Homo sapiens: one gene and its partners. The protein of the gene in region 1 interacts with the protein of each later gene in a biochemical or structural test. Each region holds a gene or a part of one and is shown in the gene's direction. Other genes may lie near its edges.

Region 1 (7,576 bases):
TACTAGTGATAAAGATTTCAGCAAGCTATGAATTATCTTCTTGTATTAAAAACATGGTATGTGATTTCTTATCTAGGGTCTTTGGAAAAAAATAAAATAAAAAATAATGTGGTATGTTGAACCAAGTGAGGCTAAAAAAAAAAAATATGGAATGAAGACAATTGTATATTATTTTTACAGCCAAATAGTAGATGAGTAGTTTAAATGGAAATTAGCTATTGAAATTTTGATTTGTAATGTTGATTAGTATTTTAATCAGAATTTTGACTAACTGAAAAATGTGTTTAAAAACAAAAGATTTTGTTATTAATGAGGATTATTTGGAGGTTTTTCTGGTTTCAAAGCATACCACAAAACATGGTCTTTTTCTTTTTTCTTTTATTTTTTTGCGATAGAATCTTGCTGTGTTGCCCAGGCTGGAGTGCAGTGGAGCGACCTCAGCTCATTGCAACCTCTGCCCCCCGGGTTCAGTTGATTCTCCCACCTCAGCTTCCTCAGTAACTGGGAATACAGGTGCATGCCACCATACCCAGCTAATTTTTGTATTTTTAGTAGAGACGGGTTTCACTATGTTTGGCAAGGCTGATCTTGAAATCCTGACCTCAAGGCAGGTGGACCTCAAGTACCACCTGCCTCGGCCTCCCAGAGTGCTGGGATTACAGGTGTGAGCCACTGTGCCCAGCCCAACTATATTTCTTTTACTGATAATTGTTCTAAATTTATTAAAACATGACTATCAAGATGAGTTTTAGCTGTATAAAGGATACTTATAGAAGTTCATTCAGCTTCCTTGGAATACGTACATAAGGATATAAAGTTTACATTTATGTTAACTTTTAATGATGATGACATTGAGAGTTAAGATTTTTAAACATTTATTTTGTGCTAGAGAATACTACGCAGTTTTACATACATCATCAGTTGTAATCCTCATGACAGCCCTAAGAGATGCAGGTATGATTGCTACTCCACTTTATAGAGGAAGAAACTCAGGCTTGGAGAGGTTAAGTGACTAGCCAGAGTTCTCACAGGTAGCGTGTGGCAGAGCTGACTTTCAGAGCCAGATTGTCAGACTCCAAAGCTGTTGAGTCTAATCACTTTGCTATTTAAGTTGTGTACATCTGTTTTGTTACAATTTAATAAGCAGTTAGGATACCTCGTTATGAAAAAAATCACATTCTCAAAAAACTTTTTCAGTGAGAAAGGGGGCCTAGTCCAAATTGGAATAACAGTTACTTTTCCTGCAATTAAACGTTTCCTGCAGTTAACAGTTTCTTTTCATACAGGTTGAGACTCACAAATTTGAAAATCTGAAATTCAAAAGGCTTCAAAACTTTTTGAGCGCTTTCGTGATGCTCAAAGGAAATGCTCACTGGAGCATTTTGGATTTTTCAGTTGTGTGTTTGGGATGCTCAACCAGTTTTATGCGTGTGTATATATAGAATGCAAATATTCGAAAATCTCCAAAAATGTGAAATTCAAAACACTTTTGGTTCCAAGCATTTCACATAAGGGATACTCAACTGGTAGCTATGATTATAGTTACAGCTATAAAATCAAGGCATTGCAAATCCAATATTTGATTATATCTAGTTTTAACTTATGAGTAATGATTTTTATTTTCCTGTCACAGTGGCGCTGTCATTAGGACTGTGCTTCCTTTTATATATTCTTTTTGTTTGTTATGACAGACAGCACACATTCACAGGAACTACTCAACCACGTAACCACTACTCCCTGTCATGATGTGTTATGACCAGATTACATGCAAGTCAACAGGGAAAAATCTTCTATACTGATTTGAGGCATAAAATGACTAGCAAAAGCCACATCTGAAAATATACGAAATAACTGTTAAATTCTTTGTTTCTGTCTCTGTTCTAGACAATGAAATATCCGGTAAAGTTTCCAGTAAATGTATTTCAGATTATGTAACTAAAGTATTATTTAAGAGAAATTTTTAAAATATTGTTAAATACTGTTAGGATAGATTTTAAATTTTCTTGTTTGAAAGATCGTAAATTAAGTTTTGATATTCTAACAATTTTTTTTCTTTAGGAGTAGATCCCATAATAGATCACGTTCAAGACAGAAAGACAGACGTAGATCTAAGAGCCCACATAAAAAACGCTCTAAATCAAGGGAGAGACGGAAGTCAAGGAGTCGTTCGCATTCACGGTGAGTTTTAGAGAAATTAACAATAATTTTTTTTTCCTCAGAGTTCTGTTAGTGCTAAGGGATAATATTTTAATTGGCTTCATTTGTTAAAAATCTGTTGTGGTTTAGGTTTTTAATGAGAGAAATTAAACCTTTTTTATTGTTTTAGTAATCTAGGATTAATATTGATTGCCAGTGATCTGAATCTGATGTCAGTGTGACTCATGAGGTTTCCAAACTACTCAGTTCAGCTTGCGTAGTATGAATAGCTTTGTTTAGCAGCTTCTTGTACACCTGAGCTATATAAAAATGTATATGTAAATGTCTGTAGGTACTATAAATTGTCTTGTGTTGGTAATTGTTGAAGAGAGAGAGGTCTTTTTGGAGGAGGTAGAACTATTTTAGTTATGAATTTATTTATTTTTGTTTTTAAAGGGACAAGAGAAAAGACACTCGAGAAAAGATCAAGGAAAAGGAAAGAGTGAAAGAGAAAGACAGGGAAAAGGAGAGAGAGAGGGAAAAGGAACGTGAAAAAGAAAAGGAACGGGGTAAAAACAAAGACCGGGACAAGGAACGGGAAAAGGACCGGGAAAAAGACAAGGAAAAGGACAGAGAGAGAGAACGGGAAAAAGAGCATGAGAAGGATCGAGACAAAGAGAAGGAAAAGGAACAGGACAAAGAAAAGGAACGAGAAAAAGACAGATCCAAAGAGATAGATGAAAAAAGAAAGAAGGATAAAAAATCCAGAACACCACCCAGGAGTTACAATGCATCGCGAAGATCTCGTAGTTCCAGCAGGTTTGATAATGCTTAAAATTTTTACAAAGGGATTTGCTGATGACAATTGGAAACAAAATTTTTTACGGAGGGAGAAAAGGTTACTGTACGCAAGTGGAACCTGTAAAGTAATATAAGAACATTTTCTCCTAATTTCAGAGTAAACATTTCTCTAGCAGAGTGGGGAAAGAGATGATACTGGGCAACATTATTTGAAGAGTTTTAGCTATTCTTTGTAACCACTATTTTAATAGAATAATAATAATTGTTATTTTCTTAGAGGGTGGGATGGCAGGGAAAGGTACTTTTTTTAAAAAGCACATTAAGAATTTGCGTCTTAGGCTTTTTCCTGAACTTTTTTTGAATGGTGTGATTAATTTTAATATGTAAAATGATTGCTGAAGTTGCAGTGTTAGCCCTCTTTGTCACCTAAGTTAATTTTTATCCTTATTTTGTTAAGTGCATAACATTTAAATTTTGGTCGTGTTTTATTTTGTCAGTTTTAAGGGTTAGAGTTTTTCCTTAGGACCGTGATTTCAGTTTATTAATAGCTTTACTACCACCAGGTGGCAGCAAGTTGCCATAGTAACAGCTGTACAATGAGAACAACTTTTGAGATTTAAGATTATCTAAACCCACATCCTTTACTTCAGATGATACCATGACTGTAAATGGAAGTTCCTAACTTATACTACACTATCTTAAAAATACTAAATATATATATTAGCAAATTTTTGAAGATTTTTAAAGATGGTTTTTTAATAGAAAATAATTTGAGATAAAGGAATATATGTTTCCCATTTTTAAAACTTGTGCTTTAGTAGTTTATTTTTAATACCAGCCTTTGACTAGATAATAAAAGATAATCGTAGACATTTATTGTGCACTTTACTGTATGCCAGACATGATGTCAGTAGACTTTTTCATGTCTCACCTTATTTAATCCTCACAACAGGCCTGGGAGAAGATTATTATCATCACTGTTTTAAAACATGAGGAAGCTGACGCTCTGTATGAGAAGTATAGTAGCCCTTTTCCTTTATTTTAGAGATTAAGTTTGAGAATTCTCTAGTACTTGTACTTACTTTTAAAAACTACCTCAGAAGCATAAAGTTGAAAGCAGTAGTATATGTTAAAACAAGGCTCAAAATAAACAGATCACTGCTGGATTTCAGCACATTGAACCACAGATTGAAGAATTAATGTAACCTCCTTTGCTGTGGGTACTGGTTTGAGCCTTGTAACCACACCTTTACTGCAAAGTGATTTTATTGATTCTGTGTCACACATGCCTTTGTGTTTCTGTGATTGTTTAGACATTACCTTTCACAGCACCAAATACTATTTTCATTCCTTTTTAATAACGAATTTACTTTTTTTGATGACATGGGAATGTTTAACTTTTTCTCGGGCCATTTTAAGTTGTTTGGTGTAGAGGAAAGTTCAAGTGTTCACATTCATTCCTAAATATATATGTATATATTTTTTGAAACAGAGTCTTGCTCATCGCCCAGGCTGGAGTGCAGTGTCATGATCTTGACCCACTGCAACCTCCCCCTCCTCGGTTCACGTGATTCTTGTACCTCAGCCTCCCGAGTAGCTGGGATTACAGGTGTGCACCACCATGCCTGGCTAATTTTTGTATTTTTAGTAGAGATGGAGTTTCACCATATTGGCCAGGTTGATCTTGAACTCCTGGCCTCAAGTGATCTGCCCTCCTTGGCCTCCCAAAGTGCTGGGATTACAGGCATCAGTCACTGCACCTGGCTCAAATACATTCTTCAGTAACAACTGGGGCCTTGAGAATAAAAGATGACTGACATTAGTTTATAAAGGCAGCAGTTTGGAATGTTTCATGCTTTCAGAAGAGCTTGGTAAAGAGTTACAATTTCTTTGAATTTTTTTTTTTTTTTTTTTTTTTTTAGACAGAGTGTCACTTTGTCACCCAGGCTAGAATGCAGTGGCACAATATCTGCTCACTGCAACCTCTGCCTCCTGGGTTCAGCGATTCTCCTGCCTTAGCTTCCTGAGTAGCTGGAATTACAGGCGTGTGCCACCACACTCAACTGATTTTTGTATTTTATTTAATAGAGATGGGGTTTCACCATGTTGGCCAGGCTGGTCTCAAACTCCTGACCTCAGGTGATCCACCCGCCTCAGCCTCCCAAAGTGCTGGAATTACAGACGTGAGCCGCCACCGCCCCCAGCCAAGAGTTACAATTTCTTGTCTTTTAGCATTTTTCTGCTTTTCAAATGTTCTGATTTGTTTACTAAATGGAGAATATTTTAACTGTTCAAAAAATAGTTAATATTTTTATTTCTAACATTGTCTCCTAATTTATACTTTTAAAGAAAATGATATTAAATAATTTTTTAATGCTTAAATTTACTGTCATTAAAGGTGATACCAAGAAAGGGAAGGAAAAAACAATATTTATTGAGCACCTACTCTGTGTCACACTCTATGCTTTGCACATTACAGATTTTATCCTAAATCCTCAACAACCTAATAAAACTTGAATTATTAATTGTCTTTATTTTTCAGTTGAAAAACAGATTAGGTTAAGTAATATGATCCTGGTTGTATAGCTGGGTAAGGTGTATAACTCAAATTTAAGTCTAAATCTCACCAACTTTAGTTGTTAATACAATTTCTTTCTCAAGTAATTGTCTAGATTGCTGTCTATGGAGACTTTCCTCTCATTATCGTCAGCTAGTAGGTATTAGACATCCACTTGTACATAGTGCTTTCTGAACAAATAAGTAAAAGAATTACACTGATAAAGGCAGAGCGATTTTGTGTAATCTTAAAGTCTGGAATACGCTGACATTCACATGCTTTGAAAAAAGTATTTTTGGTTCTTAGGCTGAGCTGTTAAGAGAATGTCATTGATGTAATCAAATAATGTATCTAATTTCCACATTAGAAGTGTAATTGTGGAGTGTCTTGGGAATAAAAGTGGGTAATGGAGGAGAGAGTCTTAGGTAGAGGTAGAATTGAGTTGTGTTCTCAGAGTTCTTGAGCTTTGTATTTTAATACATATTATATATACCGTGTGAGCATTTTTTATTTTAGAAATGAAAAACTTAAATTATTTTATTAGTCTCTTAGAATCAGTTTCCTGAAATGGTAAGGATAACATGAATTCCAGAGGATTTGGTTTTTTAGCTATGTGGTCACTGATTATCAGAACTTGTGAGATAGATCATTGGGTATGTCCTCGTACCATATCCCTTAAATTATAGACCTAGTGAAGTTCATTGTTTCTGAGTTGAAGTAGTTTAGAATATGTATCATTTGCTAATCTGATAAGCAAAATGGTTTTTAATAATAATAACGTAATCTATTTTATAATTATTCCTGTCATATTTACTTTTCAGATTGTAACTGTTTTGCTTACATCTAAGCAACTTGTACACTAAATTTTAAATTAATAGAACAACAGTAATGAAATGATAGGAGGTTGGAGGGAAAAGCAATTTCTCTCTAAAATGATAGTAATGTAAATGCTTTTTAAGTAGACATTGTTGATAATTGGGTATAGAAAGTTCACATTTTACAAGCCAGTTTATGTTTCAGTTTTTGAAAAGGGCCTGTTACTTTGTTATAATCCACAGTGGGGCAGCAAGGAGCTAGATACATGACAAAGGATTTGATAAGCAAAACTTGTTTTAGCTGCTGAGAAAATACACTTGAGAGAAGCAGAAACGCCACGCCATTAATATTTTTTCTACTGAAGAAATTGTTCAAATAAACGAGGTGAAAAGGAGGAGGTCTTCTACTCTTCCTAATATGAAGTCTTAGATGATGTTTTCATCAGTCTGTAAAATTTATGGTTCATAATTTGACCCACTCTAAAGTTAGGTAATTGAACATGCTCATAAAGGACATAAGTTTAAACTGGCCTCTAAAGAATACTGTTCATATGAGAATATCAAGGACCCTTTTGCTTTTGTATATTTGAATTGCCGTTTATTTCAATTGCTGTTTTTAAAAATGATGTGTTTTTGATTTTCAGGGAAAGGCGTAGGAGGAGGAGCAGGAGTTCTTCCAGATCGCCAAGAACATCAAAAACCATAAAAAGGAAATCTTCTAGATCTCCGTCCCCCAGGAGGTAGGTTGGGAGCTTGTGCTAAAACTAAACAGGAGAAAGCAATAAATATTTTTTGAAATTTTAAATTTCTCTCTTTATTTTTTAAACTTTATATTTTGAATGAATAATACATATGCATTATTCAGAAATTAAAGATAAAAGTTATGTATCAGGAAGTCTTAATTTCCACTCTTGCCCATCTACACTGTTCCCAGAAGTAATGACTTCGTGAGGTTTTTTTGTATATGCTTCCAGTTTCATATACAGATAACAAGATGAGAATGTATCATTTTTTTCTAATACAAGAAGCAACACAGAATACACACTGTTGTGCCCTTGGTTTTGTCATTTAACTACCAGGAAGTCTTTTTGTCACTTAACTTACCAGGTCAGAGAGAGCTTCTTCAATTCCTTTTTATAATTGCGTAGGCTTCCGTTGTATGGCCATACCTTAGTTTTTTAACTAGGCTACAGTAGAAGGGGTTTTTTGAATTTTTTTTACCATAAATTATGTAATGCTGTAATGAATAGCTTTGGACTTAAGTTGT
Region 2 (8,067 bases), on another chromosome or scaffold:
GCGAGACTCCGTCTCAAAAAAAAAAGAAAGAAAATTAAACATAAAAAACCTGCAGGGTCTACACCTCAAGAGTCTCACTCACCACTATTATCAATAATCACTCAAGAAATGCAGTTTAATTGCATGTCTCGCAACGTGAGCTTTTTCCAGTCTATCATTTAAGACGCCTAACAACGCTAGCAGGTTTTATTATCTGCATTTGACACGAGAATTTGGTTGAGCTCCAAAGCTGGCACTCTAAAACTCAGCTGTCCCACTTCGCATTATATCTAAACACAGCATATCCTTTTGAAATACGTTGTCTAAAAATGTTTGGTAATTGCACCCAATTTCTAGGCCCCTAAATAGTAGCCTGCAGTGCCCACATAGGCCGGAAATAGGAGAAATGCTGACCAAAAAGCATCACAGAAAAGCTAATGTGGCGCAGACAGGCGACGCCCCAATCCCCGGCACCTGGCATTGGCCAACGAAAAGCTGCCGCTGCTGGGGACACAGATGTAAGAAAATCCAACTTTAATCCCACATGGCATCTAAAACTTAAATTTTTAATCCAAGTTTTATTTTTTCCAAACCCACCTACAATGTTGCCTAGGACTCCTAATCTTGGTGAAGACCCTTACTCTGATTTATAATGAGGACACTTTTCCCTCAACAAGTTTGGCTACTTCAGTTTTTGCAAGGAAGCAGTTACTGGTGAGTTCCCAGAATGAGTCCAACTTTGGACTCAACTGAACACTGCTGCATAGTGCTTGAAACGAAAATTAACTGGTGAATTCCTCCTGATCTAACAGTTGTATGTAATCACAGGCCCTAACTGCAACCACAAAGTCCTAAGGCTCTTGTGCTTTATCCATTAGCCACGTGCCCCGACACCTCTAGAGAACATCACCAGCTCAGGATGGAAGATGAGGCCTGCAGGGCCTGAGCACCACCTGAAGACCTGGGCTCTCTCTGGGCTTGGTTACTTCTCTGAAAAAGGAATGGGAAGGGATCAGAAGCCCTTCTAACCCTCACTAGAGCTGAGGCTACAAAAGTCCTTTTTATAGCAACAGAAGAACTTTATCATCCAAGCTTTCCTGACAAAACACTAACTCCAAGTAGTTTTGAATCCACCTAAGCTTTAATCTAGACATTCAGGCAGGTCTTCAAAGCACTCAGCTAAAGTTTAGTTTTTCTAATGATGCAAAGATCATTAGAAATGATCCCTGCTAGGCCGGGCACAGTGGCTCATGCCTCTAATCCCAGCACTTTGGGAGGCCCAGGCGGGTGGATCACCTGAGGTGAGGAGTTCGAGACCAGCCTGGCCAACATGGATGGTGAAACCACGTTTCTACTAAAAATATAAAAAAGTAGCTGGGCGTGGCGACGGGCACCTGTAATCGCAGCTACTCAGGAGGCTGAGGCACAAGAATCACTTGAACCCGGGAGGCGGAGGTTGCAGTGAGCCAAGACCGCACCACTGCACTCCAGCCTGGGCAACAACAGCAAAACTCCATCGCAAAAAAAAAAAAAAAATCCCTGTTAAATTCCTGCTAAAAGCCAAGGATATTTTGAGTAGTAAGTCTTGAACTTTACAGTTTTAAAATGAGCACCTACATAAAAAACTTTTAAACTTTATTGTTAAGCAGTTTTCCCAACCACTAAAAAAAGAAAATTCACATCATGCATAAGTTAACACCTAAACAGAAGAGATAAACTATATTTCCTGCGTAGACCAGTCTCTCACATTCTGAATGTGCTCAGGCTGGGCCTTCTAGGTGAAATACGGACACTCACAAGAACAGCAAAAACGCATCCATGTGTCAAAATTAAACTTTAACTTAAAGCTCTTATGCAACCTAACTAAAAGATTTAATCTTTCAAACTACATGCACATGTTTTAAACAGTTAATGTGTTATGAAACACATTAAGAAGAAAAAGCTATTAAAAAAATGAAATTGTTAAAAATGCTACAATTTCTTTCTACTTTCTAAGCACTGATCCTCCACTGCCTGAATTTAGCACTTTTCCAAGAAAACAGGCCCCCTGCACAGGAAACCTAAATTATATTATCCTTATCACCATAAAACCTAACAATACCAACTGGGATAGTCAAAGCTTCAAAGTTTTATGGAATTCAATGCTTTCAAAAATAACTGGTATCAGCCATAAACAGGAATGAAGTATCAATACATGTTACAACACAGATGAACTTTAAGCATTATGCTACGTGAAAGCTGATGCAAATGGCCATATGTTGTACAATTCCATCTACATGAAATGTCCACAATAGGCAAATCTATGCGGACAGAACATGGATTAGTAGTTGCCAGGGGCTGGAGGGAGAAAAGTAAGGCGACTAACTTCTAATGAGGACCGGGTTTCCTTTTTGGGTGATGAAAATCCAGAAGGAGACGGTGGTGGTGGTGGCAGAGCCTTGTGTATACACTAGGAAGCACTGAATTGTACACCTTAACCTGATGAATTTAACGGTCTGTGAATTAAACCTTCACATTCAAAAACCGTAATAGTAAAAAATAGGCTGAGTGCAAATACCCCAACAATCTACTTTGGACCCTAGCAAAGCTGAGTTCTATTCGGTCTCAGGTTGGTGTCCTTTTCTTTGGGTTAAGACCTATTTTTTGAACCAGGAAGGAAGCCAAGTAGGTACATTTGGTTCCTCAGACCCGTAGAAGTAGCTTTAAGAGCTTGTCTTTCTCTAGTTGACTTTTAATCCCAATGGCAGAAGCTGAAACGTTTTTCGTATATTTTAATTGCACTTGGCACCTGTACATCTCTTTCCTCCTCCCTGTGCCCTTGACAGAGCTACCTGTTAGGTGGTGACGAGCAAAGCTAACTCTTAGTGGAGGGACACCGAGTACCAGAGAAATTCTCCCAGCCTAGAAGGCGGGAAGAGCACACTACACACCATTTCTCTAAATTCTCTGAACACTCAAGCCCCAAGCAGCATATGTACAATACCTTTAACACATCTCTTGGCTGACTTCTTGCTGGTGGCTTCTAACTCGATGCCAATTTCATCAGGATCTTGCCCCTCTTCTTTAACCGCCTATTAGGGAGAGATGAGTTTTACAACATCATTAAGAGCTGCAGGGCACACACTGTTCCTTACAAGTAACAACCTCCCATGAAACAAAGGCAAACCCGTCCTTGCAAAGAGCAACTCCGGGTCAGCTATCTGGGCCGCAAGCCCAAAAGGCGGAGGAGGAACCCCGCACAACTTGGGTCTCTCTGGGTCCAAATGACAAAGGAGAGGGAGGCTGTGAGCAGGAGCTCCAGAATTGGGGTCAAGGACCAGTTCCAAAATGGCAACTCAACTCGACAATGCCAAACCTTCGACTTTAAAGTTATATGATGGGACAAATTAGAACAGAGAGGCTGCACTTGGCCCGGCCTCGGTGAAGGGCTGGCCACCGCTGGTGAGGAGGAACAGCAGCCAGCCTGGGGAGATTCAACAGGTCCCTCAGTGCCTGCCACCTGCCGGGTCCAGGACTGGGTACCCACAAGCTCCCTCCCTATGCTCAAGTTGTTTGTTCCAGTTGCGGAAACAGACAATTCCCAACCCCTTAATATTTTGCATTTAGCCCCTGCTTTCAGCGAGGTGCGACACAAACGCAGGATGAGCTGGCAAGGAGGTGGGGCAGCGCATTAGGAAGGGCGCTCAGGAAGGTGATGTCTCAGGCAGACCCAAAATGACAACAAGGGGCCGGCCACGAGAAGATCTGGGGGACCCGGGTGGACAGCTTCGTAAAGGCCAAAGCCCTGGGGCAAGAACAAGCACCGCCCCCTTTCCTGTAAATGCTCTGGAGTCCGCCAGACACCCATTCTCCGGAGGAGGAAACTGAGGCACAGAGAGAAAGGCACCTGCCCAAGGTCACAGAGCCAAGGCTCGATCGGGAGCCCCAGGAGGGGTCCCGGGGCCACCCTGGTAGCGGAGAAGACCGCACGCTGAGCGCGCTTGAGGAGAAAAGGTGGAAAGAGGATAGGAAGGGAGGCACAGAGAGGAGCGGTGACGGGCCAAGGTCACACAGCCGGCCCCCTGGGTGCCCGACACCTCGAACCGGGGTCGGCCAAGACGCGGGGCGAACCCAGGGCGCCCCGGGTCCGGGAGCCGCGGTGACAGGTGCAGGCGGGGGCGTGCCCGGGCCTCCTGCGCCACCCCCGAGCCCCGCGCCGCCTCACCTTCTTGAGCCGCTCCATCAGGACGCTCTTGTTGCCGCCCGTGTCCAGGTTCCGCTTCTTCAGCTCCGCCCGCAGATCGATCACCCGCAGCTCGCTGAGCCGCCTCGTCCCAGTCTCCGCAACGCCCGGGCCGAGAGAAGCCGTGCCAGGGCCCGAGTCGCCCGACCCGGGCAGAGTCTCCGCCATCGTCGCGTTCCCGTCTTCGCCACCGACTCAGTCGCACACCGCCGGCAGCTATAGCGGCTCTGAACACAAAATGGCGCCGCCTAAGAGGAAAACGCACTCGTTTCCTCCCGCCCCGCTTTGCGGCCGCGCACGCGCACGCGCACCGCCCCCACTAGCGTACTTAGCAGCAAGGACGCTCGCGCGTCCACCAACCGCGGGTTCCCCGGCACAACGCGCAAGCGCTGAATCTGCAGCTCGCATGCGTCCCGGCAGTTCCCGGCGGGAGGCTGACGAGACGCAACGCGTCTGCGCACATCCCCGCGTTGTTCTCACTGCGCATGTGCAGTTGCAACCGGGATACTAGAACCTACGCTTGGTGCGCCTGCGCAGAAGCGAGGCGCGCTGGGGCGACTGGAGCGGTTCCCTCGCAGGCGGCGCCATTTTGTGCTAGGAGCCTGATAAAACCGGCCCGGTTCTGTGGAAAGTGGGCGGCGGAGCCAGGGTCCCTGGAATGGCGGAGACTCTGTCAGGCCTAGGTGATTCTGGAGCGGCGGGCGCGGCGGCTCTGAGCTCCGCCTCGTCAGAGACCGGGACGCGGCGCCTCAGCGACCTGCGAGTGATCGATCTGCGGGCGGAGCTGAGGAAACGGAATGTGGACTCGAGCGGCAACAAGAGCGTTTTGATGGAGCGGCTGAAGAAGGTGGATTTGGGGCCCCGAGGGCGGGCACAGGGTGGGTCTGGGGTCCTCTTGGCCGCGACGGTGGCTCGCGGGCCCTGGCGTCCGCCCCCGGCCGCGTTCGCGGCCTCGCCGGACCTGGCGCTCTCGCGTCCCCCGGCTCCTCCGAGGCCCCGGAGAGAGTTCCTTGGCCGGCTGGGCCTGGGTTCAAATCCTAACGCCGCAATGGGGCCAGGAGAACCACAAAAACGGCACGCGTGCAGGAGAAACGGTGACGGGTGACATCGTCCACTGAGAGGAGGGTTCTCCCCTCGTCTCGTCCCCTCCTCCGTACCTGGAGGGGAGACCCTGAAACCCTCACTTCCCAGGCGAGGGGAAGGGACTCGGCCAAGGTCACACGGCCGAGGACGGGCAGCGTCGGGATTTGAACCCAGGCCCTGGGATTCCTGATTCGGCTGCTTGGTTTCCCCAGGGAAGATGCTTTGTGACCCACAGGGGACCGACCAGCCTGAATCGGGGCTGATTTACAAAGGAAACACCCGTAGGACATACTCAAAGGGAAAAATAGAAAAAAACCCACCACAATCCAGTTTTCACGGTTTGCCGGTACTCGCTCGGTGAAGTAACGTGGCAGGAAGGAAAAGTGGTGTTGACGGTAGTGATCAGAAATGTGAAATGAGGGGAGACCCCGGGTGGACTTTAAAACCAGCCTCAGAACTGCCCGGGAGGCGGGCAGAGCCTGGGCTCCCCCAGCTCCGTCAGTCTCTCTGGACTTGGGGACCCTGCCAGCTCTCGGTGGCCTGATCTTGGGCATAGGAGACCTTGAACCCCTTCTGAGTCCTCTTTTCTATTCTTTTTTTTTTTTTTTCTCCTGTAAGAAGCAAAAAAGCAATAGGACTTTGATTTGGGGATTAAATAAGTTTGCGTGGAGCAGGCTTGGCGTGCTGCCTGGCGCATGTAAACACTCGGTGTGTGGTTGCCATCACGATTCGCTTTTCCTCTCTGTGCCACCACGAGTCCTCATTTGCAGATCGGGGGCTCTAACGCCTCCCTTGGGGGATTCAAAGGGATCCCTAGGAAAAGCAGAGAGGCAAGTAAAGGTTAGCCACCTGCGGTTTCCTTATTCCTGTAGCTTTTTTTCTCTGCCTTTTTTCCACCTGGCTACTCTGGGACCTCTCCCCTGTAGTTGCTCCGCCTGGCCGCCCACCCCCCAGCCCCTGCAGGCAGTGGGGCTGTTGACACATCCCACCATCCTGACTCCGGAACTACGGAGATCACAGGGCTTTATTATTAATTGGTGATGAGAAGAAGTAGGGATTTTTTTTTTTTTTTTTTTCCTGATGAGAAACCCTGGGCTCAAGGGTGGATAGTTGTCTCGGCCAGAGTCACATGGGCCTTTTAAAAGCTCAAGCTTGTGTTTCTTTTCACTATGGATTCTCTTTACTCAGATAAGGCAGGAAGCCCACTGATCTACATATTTACCCAGAGAAAATGCAGAGAGTGGAGATTGGCGGCTGGTCAGGTGTGGTGCCCCGCCACCAGGGCCTCCCATCAGCTAAGCCAAATTAAGAGGCTTTATCCTTTTTTTCTCCCTGGACGGTCCATAGGCCTGAAAAGCTGCTGTGATCTTCCTGTCAAGCTGGTGACTGAGACTTCCCATCACTCGCTGTCATCTCTGAGAGCACAGATTTGTTCCTTCTTCCTTCTCCTTTTCATTTTCTTCAAGATGTGGTCCCAAAACACGAATACCGCCAGCCCATATCCCTGTCTGCCACTCACCCAAGCCAGTCTGGAGTTCCTGATCTCATTCTCTTCCCGTTTCTGTCATCCTGTTGGTGTCCCTTTCTTGGTTTATTTTTCCAGGAAGGGCAAAAGAACAAAAAGGGGAAACAGGACACCTGCCTAGGGCATTGCTTCTCTTCTCCTGGTGGTGTTTCAGAATTGCCTGTCCCCGGGAAAAGGGTGAGGGACTTGGTGATTGTACTTTTCCTTGATCCCAGGAAAGAACTTCAGTCCCTTTTCTGGCTTCTGAGAGGAGAGATTTTTGTTGCTGCTGGTAAAGATGAGATGTGGAACCCCCAGGCCCTATCTCAATTCAGACTTACCCACCTGGGAAACTTGGAGGCTTCCAAACCTCTGCAGATAAAACATAGTACATGAAATGATGTAAACAAAACTTGTGCTCATGGGACTGGAGAGTAAAGACTGGAAAAGTTATCAGTAAAACTTGACCTGAAGCTAAGTTTCTAGGGACGTCATCGTGATTGACGTGTTCGGTACTGATGGCTTAGTTGATGCCAGGCACTGTGCTGAGGATGGGCATAGTTGAAGTGAGTGACAGAGTCCTGGGGTGGGAGGCTGGGCGTGCCAAGAAATTCTTATAATTCAATATCCGATGAGGCACAATCACCTAGTGGTTGAGAATGAGGTACTGGAGTCGGTTGTGAATGTACATGATGGGGATCGGATGAGGTCATGCATGTCGTGACGGGTCTCGTGCGTAACACATAGTAGGATCCCAGTCAGCGAGCATTAGTATTCTGTCCACACAGTACTGAGTACAGGCACGGCGTGGAGGGAGTCCCTGGAGGGTTAAAGAGTATTTTGTGAGTAAAGTCAGGGGAAATGGAGAGTGTGCCTTTCCCTTTTTGAGTTCTTCTGGGCTTAGGAAGGAGATGAACCAGATAAGCCTACTGTTTGTTGAGTGCTTCCTTTTCATGGCTAGTAGAGTCCTCACAACAGCCTTCCAGGGTAAGTACTGTATTATTATTAGCCGCATGTTCCAGAGGAAGAAGCAAAAACTGAGCACCTAAGTAAACCTGCCTGGGACCACCCAGCTAAGAACTGGTGGCGTCAGTCGGTCTCCAGTGTAGAGCGAGATAACAGATGAGTGGATGGGCCACAGGTCCTGGGTGGTGAGGGCGGCAGCAGCTTTTTGATCTTAAAAATACAGTTTCCTTGTCACCTGAGAGCTCTCTGAAAGCAGTGTGTGAGCTGACTTTTTGGATCAACTTTACTTTTCCCTTCTTTTTAGGCAATTGAA
Region 3 (7,576 bases), on another chromosome or scaffold:
TATGTCAGCATTAATTATAAACATGGAAGACGGCATATTTTCCAAGAACCACATGTTTCAAATTAAATGTTTAGTGTAGAATAGAATGTCTTGAATAAATAGCCAGGGAAGTAAGGAGAGAGGAAAAAAAAATACATGAATGATAATCATCAGTTTAAAGCCTTAACAGGAATCTTACTTTCAAGTTTTATTTTTTCCTAAGTCACTAAGGTTTGGGTAGCATTGCAATGTGGCAATAACAATGAAGTCTTTTATAATTTGCAAGAGTGATAATCCAAAGACTTTCTACCTCTTGAAAAGTACCTTATTTAGCTGCTTCATTTGCAAGTGTGGCGGGAGCGGCAATTGAGGTGGCCTTTTGGTCTGTTCAGTATTGAGTCTTAAGCTGAGGGGCATATTAAATATGTCGCTGACACGGGTATCCCTATGCTATGTGCTCTTCCTGTTCTGATTCTTAATTTGTCTTCACTGTCTCAGTAGTGGTATAAATGGAATTAGCCAAGTTCTGCCTGTTGAGTGTAGGTATCCAGTGATCCCAATAAAATCTCCTGCCATCAATTTTTGTTACGTATGTATTTAGAGGAATGTCTGGCTGGTTAAGCCAGAGTTCTAATGGCTTTGAATTGCAGGAAATTGAGGCCCTGTAGAATAATACACCTACTTGCCTATCAATGATAAAGTGGAACTTTATATAAGATGAAGTTACAAGTGGGTTAGAGTGGGAAAAGGGAACTAAATTCAGTACAATATTTTACAAGGAGTAAAGAAACTGAGAAAATGCTATACAGTTTGTATGCCAAACAAAGACCTGTACTTTACAAGATCGAAATAGGGAAAATTAAGGCCATCTTAGTGTTAAGATTCTTCTAGGAAAAGTAGCTTCTGATTTCTTAAATATTAGCTTTGGCTAGTGGTCATATTTGTATTCCTCTTGAGCTTGTCTGTTGTGAAAGGTATATAAAAAGCAAGAAGTTGATCTTAAGTAATTAGTTGAGTGTTAAAGCCTTAAATAAGTCTTGTTAGTGTTTTTTTCTCTGTAAATTAATAATACCATTTGGGAACAAGAAGGAGATAGAAGGTAAAAGTAGAGATCAAAGAAGAAGGAAAGGTCATAAATCTATGTTCAGCTTTTTTTTTTTTTTTTTGACGGACCCTCCCTCTGTCTACCAGGCTGGAGTGCTATGGTGCCATTTCAGCTCACTGCAACCTCCGCCTTCCGAGTTCCAGCGGTTCTCCTGCCTCAGCCTCCCAAGTAGCTAGGGATTACAGGCGTGCACCACCACGCCTGGCTACTCTTTTGTGTTTTTAGTAAGAGACAGGGTTTCACTATATTGGCCAGGCTGGTCTCAAACTCCTGACCTCAAGTGATCCACTGGCCTCCGCCTCCCAAAGTGCTGGGATTACAGGACTGAGCCACTGCCCCCGGCAGGCTCAGCTCTTTTATTAGCGTAAGCTAAAAATGAAGACCAGTCTACCAGTCCTTTCCAAGACCCAGTTTTGCTTTGCAGATAAGCAGACAGGTGGAGTGCTTATCACAGTTTAATAGGGGAGCAGGCCCAAGAAGCTATTCTAAGATTGAGGGACTTGCTTGGAGTGTATCTTCCTTCTTGTCCACAATCTTCCCTTTAATTGAAACTTAACTTAATGTCATCCTTTGCCTGCATGTCTGTTACACAAAAATAGAGACTTGTGTCTGTTTTGTTTAGTAACTCCAGCACAGCACCACTTCAAACAGTAGCCGATACATACTTGGTACCTAGTAACTTGGTACCTAATAACTATTTGTTGAATGAAATGATGCTAACTTGTACTGAGTGCTGGCTATGCCAGATACTTTTATAGTACATTACACATTATTAGGTCATTTTCTCAGCAGCCTCTGAAATAAGTGGTATTATTTCTACTTTGCATAGGAAACTAAGGTGTGTGGAAGTTAAATAATTCTCTTCAAATTATACAGTAAGTGGCAGAATAAAAACTCAAACCATGTCTGGATCCAGAATCTGTGATTGTAATCCCTAGGATGTATTTCTCTCAATAAAGGGATTTTTAATTTTTTGCCTATTGTAGCTATATTCATAAACAGTATTTATTGTTGGGTAGTAAGGGAGGTTTTACACATTTCTCCATACCTTTAAATCACAGCAAATAAAATGGTCTTTTTGGAGGTAGGCTGGTAGTATCCCTAGAACTCCATCCTTTTTGAATATTCTTATGGCATGTACGATACGTTGCTTTAAAAATACTGATGAACTAACTAAAAATTCTGTTCCTAGATTTGGAGCAAGAGGTGGTGGTGGCCTTCCCCCGAAGAAATTTGGTAATCCTGGGGAGCGTTTGCGTAAAAAAAAGTGGGATTTGAGTGAGCTCCCCAAGTTTGAGAAAAATTTTTATGTGGAACATCCGGAAGTAGCAAGGCTGACACCAGTAAGTTTACATGTGTGTTTTAATGTACAGATTATTGAACCAAGTAGATATATTGGTTAGAGTTTATTCATACGCTACTGTTGCCGTTTTACATTTTATTCTAGTGTGGTGATATTTTTCTTAAAAAATTTTTTGGTTAATTTTTTTTTTTTTTTCCTTTTTGTAGAGACCGGGTTTCGCCATATTCCCCAGGCTGGTCTTGAACTCCCTAGCTCAAGCAAACTACCTGCCTCAGCTTTTCAAAGTGCTAGGATTACAGGCGTGAGCCACTGCACCCAGCTGATTTTTTTTTTTTTTTTTTTTTTTTTTTTTGAGACGGAGTTTTGCTCTTGTTGCCCAGGCTAGAGTGCAATGGTGTGATCTTGGCTCACTGCAACCTCCGCCTCCTGGGTTCAAGCGATTCTACTGCCTCAGCCTCCCAGGTAGCTGGGATCACAGGCACCCGCCACCATGCCCGGCTAATTTTTTGTATTTTTAGCAGAGATGGAGTTTCACTATGTTGGGCAGGCTGGTCTCAAACTCCGGACCTCGGACCTCAGGTGATCGACCTGCCTCAGCCTCTCAAAGTGCTGGGATTACAGGCGTGAGCCACCACGCCCAGCCTCTTTTTATTTTTGAGACGGAATCTTGCTCTGTCACCCAGGCTGGAGTGCAAGAGTCAGGGTTTCACCATGTTGATCAGACTGGTCTCCGTCTCCTGACCTTGTGATCTGCCCGCCTCAGCCTCCCAAAGTGCTGGGATTATGGGTGTGAGCCACCATGCCCAGCCTTTCTTACATTCTTATCTAAGACCCCTAATACTCATAAAAGGGGACCAGTTTAAATATGCATTTAATTTGTTCTCTTGTTGATAATGCTTACTAATCTGTTTATTATACATGATTGAAATATTGTATATTAGGTCATGTTTTTTCATCTGTTAGTGAAAAAGATAGATTGGCTTTTTTTTTTTTTGAGGTGAAGTCTCACTCTGTCCCCTAGGCTAGAGTGCTGTGGCATGATCTTGGCTCACTGCAACCTCTGCCTCCCAGGTTCAAGCAATTCTCCCACCTCAGCCTCCCGAGTAGCTGGGATTACAGACATGTGCCACCACGCCTGGTTCATTTATTATTTATTTTTTTTTTTTCAGTAGAGACGGAGTTTCACCATGTTGGCCAGGCTGGTCTCAAACTCCTGACCTCAAGTGATCCACCCACCTCAGCCTCCCAAAGTGCTGGGATTACAGGTGGGAGCCACCGTGCCCAGCCAACATTGTCTCTTCTTGTACCTCATTACCATTGTTTTTTGGACTCTACACATGAAATGGTTACTCTTTCAGAAGAAAGTGTAATGGAAAGAGTACTTGGGTCCAAGTTCCACTTTTTTTTCCTTCTCATTCTGACCTTGAGCAAGTTACTTATCTTTTTTCTCCTATAGAAAATGGAACTCTTAATCACCTACATCATTAATTAACTTACAAAGTAAGTAGGAGCCTTGCAGAGTTAAAGTGATACACATGAAAGTACCATGTAAACTATTAAATATTTGCCAACATAGCTGTGGACTGGATAATTGCTCAGCTAGCTTGGAACATAAATTCTGAATGTTTAGAATAACTAGTTTACTAACTTCTTTCATTTTTTTTCAATAGTATGAGGTTGATGAGCTACGCCGAAAGAAGGAGATTACAGTGAGGGGGGGAGATGTTTGTCCTAAACCCGTGTTTGCCTTCCATCATGCTAACTTCCCACGTAAGTGTTCTTCAATCTAGAACCTTAATTTGTTAAATTGGGTTGAATGGGAGACAAGGGTAGTAGGTTAAACTCTTTGAGCCAGGCTTGGGGTTTTGTTGAAAGGACAAGAGATTGTTTTTATGGTCATCAGTTCTGTTCTAGTATTTAGACTGAGGTTTTGTTTTTGTTTTGTTTTTTTGAGGTTTTTGTCTTTTTCTAGGGTTTTGCCCTCTGCCTTTTAGAAAACAGCAGAATGAAATTGCTTTCTAGCTGGATATAATGTGAATTTGCTAAACAATAAATGACTACCATGTTCCCATGTCCTGTTAGATGCTTTAGGGTAATGGTTTTTCAAATTTCTGGGAGAGGTAGACTATTGTAGCAGCTTTTGTTTGTTTGTTTTTGGAAACGGAGTCTCAACGTTGTCACCCAGGCTGAAGTGCAGTGGCGCGATCTCAGCTCACTACCTCCTCTGCCTCCTGGGTTCATGCGATTCTGCTTCACCCTCCCGAGTAGCTGGAATTACAAGGGCCCACCACCACTCTGGCTAATTTTTGTATTTTTAGTAGAGACAGGGTTCACCATGTTGACCAGGCTGGTCTGGAACTCCTGGCCTCCACTGGCCTCAGCCTCCCAAAGTGATGGGATTACAGGCGTGAGCCACCTAGCCTGGCCCTTAGAAGCTAACAGTGAGTTGGTCGGAGATCTAGTAGATAAAGAAAAAGCACTTTGGAGAGATGAAGCTGGGTAAATCTTATCTTCAGTGAGCTTAAAAGTTTTTTTAAAAACTCTTGGTTTGTGTCTTTAAACACAATAAAATACGCAAAATAAAATTCTCTTACAGAATATGTAATGGATGTGTTGATGGATCAGCACTTTACAGAACCAACTCCAATTCAGTGCCAGGGATTTCCGTTGGCTCTTAGTGGCCGGGATATGGTGGGCATTGCTCAGACTGGCTCTGGGAAGACGTTGGCGGTATGTATGAGCAAGAGAAGATCCTTGATATTGTGGTAACTTATTTTGCTATTCTAGTTGTCATACGTTCTCAGTTCTTCGTAGAAGTGCCATTCAGATAGTTAGATACTATTTTAGTTATTAAATATATGGAAGCATTTTATGTTCAAATTTGTATTGCTTCCTGTATATAGCAGTGGTAAGTTCTGTTTTTCACTTTCCTATTTATGCATTAATTCAGTAATTACTAAGTATCTAAGTAAGATTGTACTTCTAAGCGTAAGGTTGTCATTCTTTCCCCCCTCCACAGTATCTCCTGCCTGCAATTGTTCATATTAACCACCAGCCATACTTGGAAAGGGGAGATGGCCCAATCGTAAGTGTGTTTCAGTTTCTTTGTAATTCTAAGAAAAACTACAATTTAGCGACTATTTAGGCTTGGTGCTTTACATTATCCATTTGTACTCTTAACCACACCCTCCATAGGTGGAAATGGTTTCATTCTCATCTTACTTGGAATTAAATGACTTACCCAAGATCACTCAGCAATTGAATAGCTGAGCTTACATTTGAACCAAAGTCTTACTCTTAAAGAAACCATGCATGCTGTATGGGCATTTACTGTGCAGTAAATCAAGTGTTTTCTGGTTTTGGTGTGGTTTTTTTTGTTTTTTTGTTTTGATTTTTTGTGTTTTTTTGAGATGGAGGTTCGCTCCGTGTTGGTCAGGCTGGTCTCAAACTCCTGACCTGAGGTGATCAGCCCACCTTGCCCTCCCAAATTGCTGGGATTACAGGCATGAGCCACTGCGTCCAGCCTTCTTTCTTTTTTTTTTTTTTTTTTGGAGATATATTCTCACTCTTGTTGCCCAGGCTGGAGTGCAGTAGCGAGATCTCAGCTCACTGCAACCTCCGCCTGCCAGGTTCAAGCCATTCTCCTGCCTCAGCCTCCCGAGTAGCTGGGATTAAAGGCGTGCACCACCACTCCCAGCTAATGTTTGTATTTTTAGTAGAGACAGGTTTGCACCATGTTGGCCAGGCTGGTCTGGAACTCCTGACCTCAGGTGATCTGCCTGCCTCGGCCTCCCCAAGGTGCTGGGATTACAGGTGTGAGCCACCGCGCCTGGCATTGAATGTGTACTTTTTTTTTTTTTTTTTTTTTTTTTGAGATGGAGTTTCGCTCTTGGTTGCCCACGCTGGAGTACATTGGCACAATCTCGGCTCATTGCAACCTCCACCTCCTGGCTTCAAGCGATTCTCCTGTCTCGGCTTCCCAAGCAGCTGGGATTACAGGCATGCGCCGCCACACCCAGCTAATTTTTGTATTTTTAGTAGAGACGGGGTTTCACCATGTTGGCCAGACTGGTCTCGAACTCCTGACCTCAGGTGATCTGCCTCGGCCTCCCAAAATAATGGGATTACAGGTGTGAGCCACCACGCCCGGCCTACTTAACTTTTTTAAGAAATAAGCTTGCATTTGTCCTATATATTTATGAACATGTACAATATGTCTCAAGATATTCACAAAAAGAAATAATGCAGTACTTATAATACATAGTATATGTCTGACAGCATTATTATTAGTTGATATCTAATGGATCAGTATATAAAGCAAGTTTCATAATTTAATTTGAATGGTATATGATACCTTGATTTTTGTATTATTTGGCCAGATTGTACACAGTCTTGTCAGATTACATGTAAATTTTCATTGTTTTTGCCTTATCTACCTGGTGATGTGCTTAAATTAGAGGTCAGGAATGTGTCATTCTGCCAGTTTAAGTCAGGATGACCATCCAAAATTCCAAATTTTAGGCCAGGCATGGTGGCTCACACCTGTAATCCCAGCACTTTGGGAGGCCAAAGTGGGCAGATCACATGAAGTCAGGAGTTCGAGACTAGCCTGGCCAACATGGGGAAACCCCCATCTCTACAAAAATACAATAATTAGCTGGGCATGGTGGTGCCTGCCTCTAGTCCCAGCTACTCAGGAGGCTGAGGCGCAGGAGAATCATTTGAACCCAGGAAGCAGAGGTTACAGTGAGCCTTCATTGCACCACTGCACTCCAGCCTGGGCGATAGAGTGAGACTTTGTCTCAGAAAACAAAACAAATCCAAATTTTGAGGACCAATATGATCCTCAAAGTAAATGCTTGCTGGAGCATTTTGGTTTTGGGGGTTTAGGATGCTCAACCTGTAAATGAGAGTTGTATACTTAAAACCAGGTAATACAATCTATATCTCCACTTAAACAGTATATATAAACTATAATGATTGATAATGTGTCATAGTAAAAGTGACGAGGATACCAGTATCATTCCAAATGCTAAACATGAAGTTCTAATAATTTTTTTCTATATTCCATTGTGCTAATATTCCCCACTTCTGATCTTCACCCCATCACTTTTAATGTGCTAGATTAGACAGCAAAGAATTAAATTAGCTTTTTGTATTTTGTTTCTTCTTTTTTTTTTTTTTTTTTT

The links. The genes of interacting proteins can lie anywhere in the genome.
Region 2: the proteins of SREK1 (region 1) and SAFB form a complex in vitro, tested with the Homo sapiens proteins (one study listed by BioGRID).
Region 3: the proteins of SREK1 (region 1) and DDX17 form a complex in vitro, tested with the Homo sapiens proteins (one study listed by BioGRID).

Annotation. Positions count from the first base shown.
Region 1 is NC_000005.10:66,167,993-66,175,568, forward strand, and holds part of SREK1 (splicing regulatory glutamine/lysine-rich protein 1), read left to right. Parts: intron 1-2,058; coding exon 2,059-2,178; intron 2,179-2,592; coding exon 2,593-2,955; intron 2,956-6,953; coding exon 6,954-7,049; intron 7,050-7,576. UniProt on the Homo sapiens protein: Participates in the regulation of alternative splicing by modulating the activity of other splice facors. Inhibits the splicing activity of SFRS1, SFRS2 and SFRS6. Augments the splicing activity of SFRS3.
Region 2 is NC_000019.10:5,618,347-5,626,413, forward strand, and holds the start of SAFB (scaffold attachment factor B1), read left to right. Parts: upstream 1-4,736; 5' UTR 4,737-4,859; coding exon 4,860-5,048; intron 5,049-8,058; coding exon 8,059-8,067. Other genes in the region: SAFB2 (scaffold attachment factor B2), read right to left, coding at 2,963-3,050, 4,184-4,369. UniProt on the Homo sapiens protein: Binds to scaffold/matrix attachment region (S/MAR) DNA and forms a molecular assembly point to allow the formation of a 'transcriptosomal' complex (consisting of SR proteins and RNA polymerase II) coupling transcription and RNA processing.
Region 3 is NC_000022.11:38,495,981-38,503,556, reverse strand, and holds part of DDX17 (probable ATP-dependent RNA helicase DDX17 isoform 1 precursor), read left to right. Parts: intron 1-2,276; coding exon 2,277-2,427; intron 2,428-4,057; coding exon 4,058-4,157; intron 4,158-4,983; coding exon 4,984-5,117; intron 5,118-5,406; coding exon 5,407-5,472; intron 5,473-7,576. UniProt on the Homo sapiens protein: As an RNA helicase, unwinds RNA and alters RNA structures through ATP binding and hydrolysis.